Linked DNA regions of Homo sapiens: all the other regions are linked to region 2. The links come from fine-mapping of genetic effects on gene expression. A gene starts in region 2. Each other region holds a variant in brackets. All regions are shown on one strand. Distances are between the middles of the regions. Region 1 holds the start of MIR3713 (microRNA 3713). Region 2 holds the start of ISL2 (ISL LIM homeobox 2). Region 3 overlaps ETFA (electron transfer flavoprotein subunit alpha).

Region 1 (2,763 bases), 250 kb before region 2:
AATGTAGACCATATGATAGGCCACAAAACAAGTCTCAATAAATTTAAGAAAACTGAAATTATATCATGTACTCTGTCAGACCACAGTGGAATAAAATTGGATATCAACTCCAAAAGGAATTTTCAAAACCATGCAAATACATGGAAATTAAATAACCTGCTCCTGAATGATCATTGGGTCAACAATGAAATCAAGATGGAAATTTAAATATTCTTTGAACTGAACAATAACAGTGACACAGCCTATCAAAATCTCTGGGATACAGCAAAGAGGAAAGTTGTTCATAGTCTTAAATGCCTTCATCAAAAAGTCTGAAAGAGCACAAATAGACAATCTAAGATCACACCTCAATGAACTAGAGAAACAAGAACAAACCAAACCCAAACCCAGCAGAAGAAAAGAAATAACCAAGATCAGAGCAGAACTAAATGAAATAGAAACCAAAAAATAAATACAACAGATAAATGAAACAAAAAGCTGATTCTTTGAAAAGATAAATAAAATCAACAGACCATTCTATTGATTGGGAAGATCCAAATAAGCTCAATTATAAAACGGGAGATATTACAACTGACACCACAGAAATACAAAAGATCATTCAAGGGTACTATGAACACCTTTACGTTCATAAACTAGAAAACCTAGAGGAGATGGATAAATTTCTGAAAAGATACAACCCTCCTAGCTTAAATCAGGAAGAATTAGGAAGCCTGAACAGACCAATAACAAGCAGTGAGATTTAATGATAATTTAAAAATTATCAACAACAACAAAAAAAAATCCAGGACCAGACAGTTTCACAGCTGAATTCTATCAGGCATTCAAAGAAGAATTGGTACCAATTCTACTGACACTATTCCACGAGATAGAGAAAGAGGGAATCCTCCCTAAATCATTCTATGAAGCCAGTATCACCCTAATACCAAAACCAGGAAAGAACATAAAAAAAAAAGAAAACTACAGACAAATATCCCTGATGAAGAGACCAATATCCCTGATATTTAGTAGACTTGAGCATCTGATTTTGGTATCCATCTGGGGATAGTGAAACCATCCCCAAACGGATACCAAGGATAACTGTATATGTAATATACACACACACATTTAT[A/G]CACACATATATATGTATGCATATGTATATACATTCATTTATTTATTTTCTAGCTCTGTTCATTGAAGAGGCATGAAAAGAATGCCCAACTCAGTAGCAAAGAGCATCTCTAGTGCTCACTGATTTGGGGTTTGAAATATCTTTTCTCAGTAAAAGAAACAAGAGCTTCTTGGGGAAATGGCTAATTCCTGATCTGAATGTCTAAATAAAGCCCTAAATTTATTTAATTAATTCCAGATATGAATGTCTCAAAATAGCTCTAAATTTAGACCATGTACCTTCCAAATAGAGGATATGAAAGGTTAATTAATTTATGTCTTCCTATCCATTATGCTAAAGAACAATCTTAGTTCCTAAATGGACCAAGTATCTTTTTTTACACTTTTACAAATCTTCTAAATGATCCTAGTGGACCACCCCACCACCCCATGCAAACTTAACTATGATAAAAGTTAGGAATTCTGGGAGAGATACTTTTACATTTCATATTTACCAATGACAGACTTGAGCTTAGAGTTGCTGAAATTTGTTCCAGTTTTAAGAAGAAAATATTGATCTTACAGCATTATTCACAAAACCATTTACCTGACAGATACTTCTCATATTCCTAGGTTGGGAGATACAATGCCTTCACTTCTTCTTTTCATGCTAGAAAAATTATCTGCCAGAAGGAATCCAAATAAAACTTTCTGTTGTTAAAAACTACACTCTCTAAGCAGCTCCTGTTTTTGCACTGTGAGGAAAATATAGCTCTCAGAGCTTGACTTCTCTGACATTCTATAATTATTTATAGTATGAATTAAAATCTAGTGCTTTTTTCTTTACAGGGGCTATTTTATTTGTTGTACTTCTGTGAAGGCAGGGAATGAGACAGGGGTGTAGCTCAAATTACCAAAGCATCCCCTTGATTTGGCATTCTTTCTTGAAGGATAGGTTCAGAATTGATTTACCTCAGGGTGAAATACAAGCCTCTTGTATTCTGTGAATTAAAATGGTCCTTGTGCCTCCCTCAGTACTGCTGATTTTCAGTCAAATGTCAGCATTCTTGTTAAGAATAGTGCTAGATTCATATATATCTGTTGCTATGGCTGCATATTTAGTTACATGGTATGCAGACATTAGCCAAAAGCTGAAGTGGCTACTTACCTATCACACAGTGAAGTTCACTGCCAATAATCTTCCACATAAGGTCAGTAACTTTAATTGGATGTGACTCTAGCCCATATTTGATTGGAAGGTAAAAGAAGTATGCTGCCATTACTCAACTTTTTTTTTTATTTTTAATATTCTCTTTTTCCATTTGTTAGATTGAGACATACTATCAGTGAACAGTAATAATAGTCGACCATTTATTGAATGTCTACTTTAGTGTGTGGTGTCAGGATTATTATAGTAATCATTTCTAACCTCCCAAAGCTCTGAAAAGAAATATATATTATCCTGACTTTTAAGATGAAGAAACTGAGATTCAGAGAAGTTAAATAACCTCCCCAGGGTTTATACACATGGTGTGTGCTGGAGCCAGAATTCAAGTATAGGTACTTTTGATTTTAGAGTTTCTATTTCTGTTCTTTGACTTATCAAAGTAAGCTTCATGTAAATAGCTGAGGCTTAAACTGAAGTTCACCAGTGCCTTTTTGAGTGGCATTTGTTGT
Region 2 (2,763 bases):
GAGGCCGTGGTCGGCGCGGCAGAGCAGCTCGTGCTCCCGCAGCGAGAACTCGTCCCCAGGCAGCAGCTGGCGGCTGCACACGGAGCAGCGGAAGCACTCGATGTGGTACACGCTGTCCCGCGCCCTCATCACCAGGTCGCTGCTGCTGAAGCCCACCTGGCACTTGGCGCACTTGATGCCGAACAGCCTGCGGGCCCAAGGTGCGGCGGTGTCAGCGCTGGGCCTGCGGCCGCCCTCATCTCCCTGGCTGCTACGGCTCCGGCGCGCGCCCAGGACACTTTGTGGCCACCAGGAGACTGCGGTGACCCGCCTGCGGGCATTCCCGGGCCCGGGGGAGCGCTGCGGCACCCGTGCGGGATGCGGATGGCCTTCTCCCTGGGCAGGGCCGGGGCGCGCGGGCAGGCCGCCATCCCCAGTCCCGGCCCCGGCCCCTGCGCGCGGTGGCCCAGCCCGCGTTCCCGCCGGCCTCACCTGACATAGTCCCGCTTGCAGTAGGTCTTCCCGTCTCTCACGAAGCACGTGCACGTCTCGTCCAGGTACTGGCTGCACTCGGCACACTTGAGGCAGGCCGCGTGCCACTCGAGGTCGGGCGACACCCGCAGGATAAACTGGTCGTGGATCTGACTCCCGCAGCCCACGCACATGGCCGTCCCGGGCTTCTCTGCCGGGGAAGGGCGCGGGGCCGCGTCAGGCCTGACTGCCCGGACCCAGGCCGGCCTCGGCTACTCCAGCCCCAACCCAACCCGCTCGCTCTCTTGCTCTTTCTTTCAAGACTTGCGACCATAAGGAAAGATGATGAGCTCTCTAAAGGTCCAGGGCATTGGAAACGAAAAACCAGTATCTTGTGGATTGCTGAAGGTTTCTTCTGTCCCCCACCCCAAATATTTCGTTATTACATTCATTAATGACAGTCGTTTTGTCGACGTGTCTTGAAACTAAACGCAAACACGAAACTAAGAAGAGAGTAAATACACAGGCACTGCGGACGCCTGGATATCAACACCTAACGGTGCTGTCCTGGCATTTCCGCTCACACACTCCCACTCACAGCGGCTGCCTCCTATCCCAACACAGACACATCGTCTTTCGGCAGTCCCCGCTCATCCTCTCAGACATTTCTTAGTTTAAATATCCCAGAGCAAGCGAAAGAAAGCTTCCTAGCTTTGAAAAACCGAAAGGCAAACAAACAACAACCAAAAAAAAAAAAACCCACATCCCTAAATCAAACCTAATTGCCTTTGCGCAAAACAGAAGCAGATTTCGCAGCCCGAAGTCATCCTAGCCGGCTTGAGAAATAGTGTTTACTTATAAAATAAAACAACAGGATTCCCAAAGATAAGCAGTCCTGCAGGAGACATGCATTCGTTTTTCCTCTCCTAAACTATTCTGACAAATAGAAGCCACTTGTAGAATCCACTAAACATTTTTCTGCATTAGAAATTTTGCATATTAAGCATACACACACACCCCACCCCACACACACACAGAAATACTTACTCTTGGAATGATCACCCATAGCACCCAGAAAAGGATAATGAAAAATAATATCCACCATGCAGAAAAAGAGATGTGCGCAAAGTGTGCGGCCAGGGGCAGAAGGACGAGGGTCGCGCGCCCGGCCTCGGCTCTTTGCTAACTAACTCCTACTGCCCCGCGGAGTTGAAGGAGCGATTCCGCACCGGCCCGCACGCAGCATGACGTCAACACGCACTAGCCCCGGGCCGGAGCTGGGGGCGGGACCTGTGGCGTCACGAAGCTTCCCCAGAACTGCCGGGGATGCGGGGGAGGTGATGGGGATCCAGGGGCTGATGGGCGGGGTGGGTTGGGTTGGAGGCTGGGGGTGAAGGGAGATTGGCTGGGAGGAAGTGGGCCAACCCTGATTGGCCCGGAGTGAACAATGGAGTGCAGCCCCCCCACCTCCGAAACCTACAAGGATCCTCTCTCATGCCCCGGGCCTGGCAATCTGGACTGGACCTTGCGTCACCGCCGAGCTGGCTCCGCGGCCGTTACAACTCTGAGCTTCCTCTTGGACTTTCGGGGCGGTTTTCCCAGGCGCGCTGGAGCTGGGTGATGGATACCTGAGGGTGGAGATGGCTCTCCTTTAAGAGCTCCCTTCTTATATAAATTAAAAAAAAAAAAATTAAACCCACTCTCAGGACGAGAGAGCCGAGGACAAGGGGGATCCGTTTGGACGTGACCGTCATCGTCCAGCTGGTCACCTTTCTCCTCTCATGTGCCTTTGTTCTTCGGGTCCAAGCTAGAGAGAGTGTAGAGAATGACCACCTGGGTTCTGATAAACTCTATTTAGACTTTCCTATCCACACACACGTAGAAAACTTTAGATTGGGGCATTACGTGGGTTGAGCCAGAACCCAGATCCAAAAGCGCTCACCCGGGACTGGGACGGGTCCTGACTCCATCCTTGCTGCTGCTGCCGCTGCTGCTGCCCCTCCTCCCTCTCCTCCACCACCACCTCCTCCTCCTGCTCCACTTCCTTTTTTTTGTTGTTTTGTTTTGCTTTTAATTTGTTGCTGTTGTTGTTTTAAATGTAACATGGACTTCCCCGCCCCCTCATTTTTCCCCCATCCAAATGGCATAGCTCCTTTTAGGAACACTGCTGGGGTCGATTGCGTGTCCAACTTCCAAAATAAAAGATTTTTCTAAACTCTTGTCCTTCATTAACAAACCCACTGCAATGCAAATAATCAGAAACGAACGTAAGGCGCTGGGTAATTTACAGTGGTATCTGCGAGGCGGCGGCTC
Region 3 (2,763 bases), 110 kb after region 2:
CGCCACTGCAGTCCAGCCAGGGTGACAGAACGAGACTCCATCTAAAAAAAAAAAAAAAAAAAAAAGTAATAATAATAATATGGTTGAATACAATCTATGCATTTCAAAGCTTAGTAAGGAGGAAGAACTTGAGCTTGTGAGGAGCTATTGAGAGAGCTTTGGATACAAGCAAGACTTTATCATAGTTCTTTACAATTGATTATTTAGGAATATTATTTTAATAATCTGAAGAACAATAACCAGCCCCACATCTTTTTTGTTAAATACTGTAGTGGTTCCTTGCCCACAGTTATATGCTCTCTCTTTAAAAATAACTTTTAAGGCAGGCATAGTGGCACTGTAATCCCAAGGCACTGTAATCCCAGCGCTTTGGGAGGCCAAGGCAGGAGGATCACTTGAGTCCAGGAGTTGGAGAGTGGCCTGGGCAACACAGTGAGAACCCCATCTCTCCAAAAAATGAAAGAATTATCTGAGCATGGTGGTACACCCCTGTGGTCCCAGCTACTCAGGAGGCTGAGGTGGGAGGATCACTTGAGCCCAGGAGATCAAGGCTTCTGTGAGCTGATTGTACCACTGCACTCCAGCCTGAGCAACACAATGAGACCCTGTCTCAAAGTAATAATGATAATAACAATTGTTATATAGTATAATGAAAAAGCTTTCGGATGATTAAACTCCCAGATGTCTGACTAAGTGGCCTCTAGAAGAATAATTTACCATCAATAACTAAACAAATCTCTGCTTATCGCCGTGAAGCAGGTTACACATTCCCAAAAGAGAAACACGCCAATGCAAATCAACACCTGCAATTCAGAATGTTTGTTCTTGTGCCTTTGGATTTGAGGCTCACGTTTGAAACTTGTTTATTGTCTCTGACTATGCATCTTAATGTGTGTAGCATGTTTCTCTGGATTAGCAGTTACCTGGACTATACCATGTTCCAATCTTAGACATTCTGGCATCTTCTGCACATCTCTCTGAGGAACCCCTCTAAGGGAAATACACAGATGTTGGATATCCTGTAGCCTGTATTTTAAGTCAGGCTACATCAAAATACTTAATGTATTTTTTAATACCAGCTGTTTTCACAACATACAATGCCAGGTAGGTAGAAACTTAATTTTACTTCTAGAGATTTGAATTATTTTTAGTCCACAATCTATTAAAATAATACTACATTAGAGTCTAACTGCAGTGGTGTTAGAAGCATCTGTGGGGAATACCAAACTATTTGTACTGATAAACTATCTGATATTAATAAAAGAATGATTTGAATGATAGCTTTTCCTTTTTTTTTTTTTGAGACAGAGTCTCACTCTGTCACCCATGCTAACATACGGTGCACAATCTTGGCTCACTGCAACCTCCACCTCCCAGAGTTGAGCGATTCTCCTGTCTGAGCCTCCCAAACAGCTGGGAGTACAGGTGCGCACCACCACACCTGGCTAATTTTTGTGTGTTTAGTAGAGGTGGGGTTTCACCATATTGGCCAGGCTGGTCTCGAACTCCTGACCTCAAGTGATCCGCCTGCCTCAGCCTCTCAAAGTGCTGGGATTACAGGCATAAGCTTTTATTTTTTATTGTAGAGATGGGGTCTCCCTGTGTTGCGCAGGCTGGTCTTGAACGCCTGGGCTGAAGTGATCCTCCCACTTCCACCTCCCAAAGTGCTGGGATTA[T/C]AGGTATGAGTTACCATGCCTGGCCTGCATTTAAGAATATTTTTATAGCAAATAAGAGAAATGTTTGACAGCTTTTATAAGAGATATAAGTAATTTGCTTCTTTTATTAATCTATTTGCTATGTACATAAGGACTTAAAGCTGTTTAACGTCCCTTACTAACAGGCTGACAAGATACTTTAGCTTTCATATTGTTAGAATATCCCAGAATAATTGTTTTATTTTATTCTATTGTATTTTATTTTATTTATTTATTTATTTTTGAGACGGAGTCTCACTCTGTCGCCCAGGCTGGAATGCAGTGGCGCGATCTCGGCTCACTGCAACCTCCGCCTCCTGGGTTCACGCCATTCTCCTGCCTCAGCCTCCCGAGTAGCTTGGACTACAGATGCCCGCCACCACGCCCGGCTAATTTTTTGTGTTTTTTAGTAGAGACGGGGTTTCACCGTGTTAGCCAGGATGGTCTTGATCTCCTGACCTTGTGATCTGCCCACCTCGGCCTCTCAAAGTGCTGGGATTACAGGCGTGAGCCACCGTGCCCGGCCTATTTATTTATTTTTATTTTTGTTGAGACAGAGTCTCACTGCTGGAGTGCAGTGGCGTGATCTCTGCTCACTGCAACCTCTGCCTCCCAGGTTCAAGTGAGTCTCCTGCCTCAGTCTCCCAAGTAGTTGGGATTACAGGCACATGCCACCATGCCTGGCTAATGTTTGTATTTTTAGTAGAGACAGGTTTTACCCTGTTGGCCAGGCTAGTCTCGAACTCCTGACCTCAGGTGATTCACCCGTCTTGGCCTCCCAAAGTGCTGGGATTACAGGTATGAGCCACTGTGCCTGTCCTCCAGAATAATAATTTTAAAATAATAAATGAAGGACAAAATAATTTGCACTACAAAGGCTGTGGATTTGGGTATAGATTTGTTACTTTTTCACCTAAAATCAAATATTTTTTTTGTAAGTCAAAAGAAGAACTTTTAAAAAATAATGATTTTAAACTCTTTAATACTGAGATGGGCTAGATGTGGGTAAGAGAGAATTTTATTACATTCCAACCTGGAAATTTCTAATAAATTTACAGTGTTGACACAG

What was found. PIP is the estimated chance that this variant, and not a neighbour inherited with it, causes the effect.
Region 1: its variant is the best candidate, but not a certain one, in a credible set for the expression of ISL2 in whole blood (INTERVAL, PIP 0.51).
Region 3: its variant is the best candidate, but not a certain one, in a credible set for the expression of ISL2 in whole blood (INTERVAL, PIP 0.53).

What each region holds. Positions count from the first base shown.
Region 1 is chr15:76,584,953-76,587,715 of GRCh38, reverse strand. All of the region lies in intron 22 of SCAPER (S-phase cyclin A associated protein in the ER), which reads left to right. It overlaps MIR3713 (microRNA 3713), which reads right to left and starts at 1,069; the gene lies at 1,025-1,069. The variant A/G (reference allele first, on the strand shown) is at 1,109.
Region 2 is chr15:76,335,676-76,338,438 of GRCh38, reverse strand. It overlaps ISL2 (ISL LIM homeobox 2), which reads right to left and starts at 1,666. Exons shown (of 6, transcript NM_145805.3): 1 at 1,498-1,666; 2 at 472-661; 3 at 1-187. The coding sequence starts at 1,555. RefSeq lists enhancers at 346-1,157, 1,583-1,632, 1,326-1,825, 1,637-1,931.
Region 3 is chr15:76,226,054-76,228,816 of GRCh38, reverse strand. The region is part of intron 10 of ETFA (electron transfer flavoprotein subunit alpha); the gene reads left to right. Among named protein-coding and RNA genes, the nearest start is that of ETFA, 84 kb to the left of the region's middle. The variant T/C (reference allele first, on the strand shown) is at 1,677.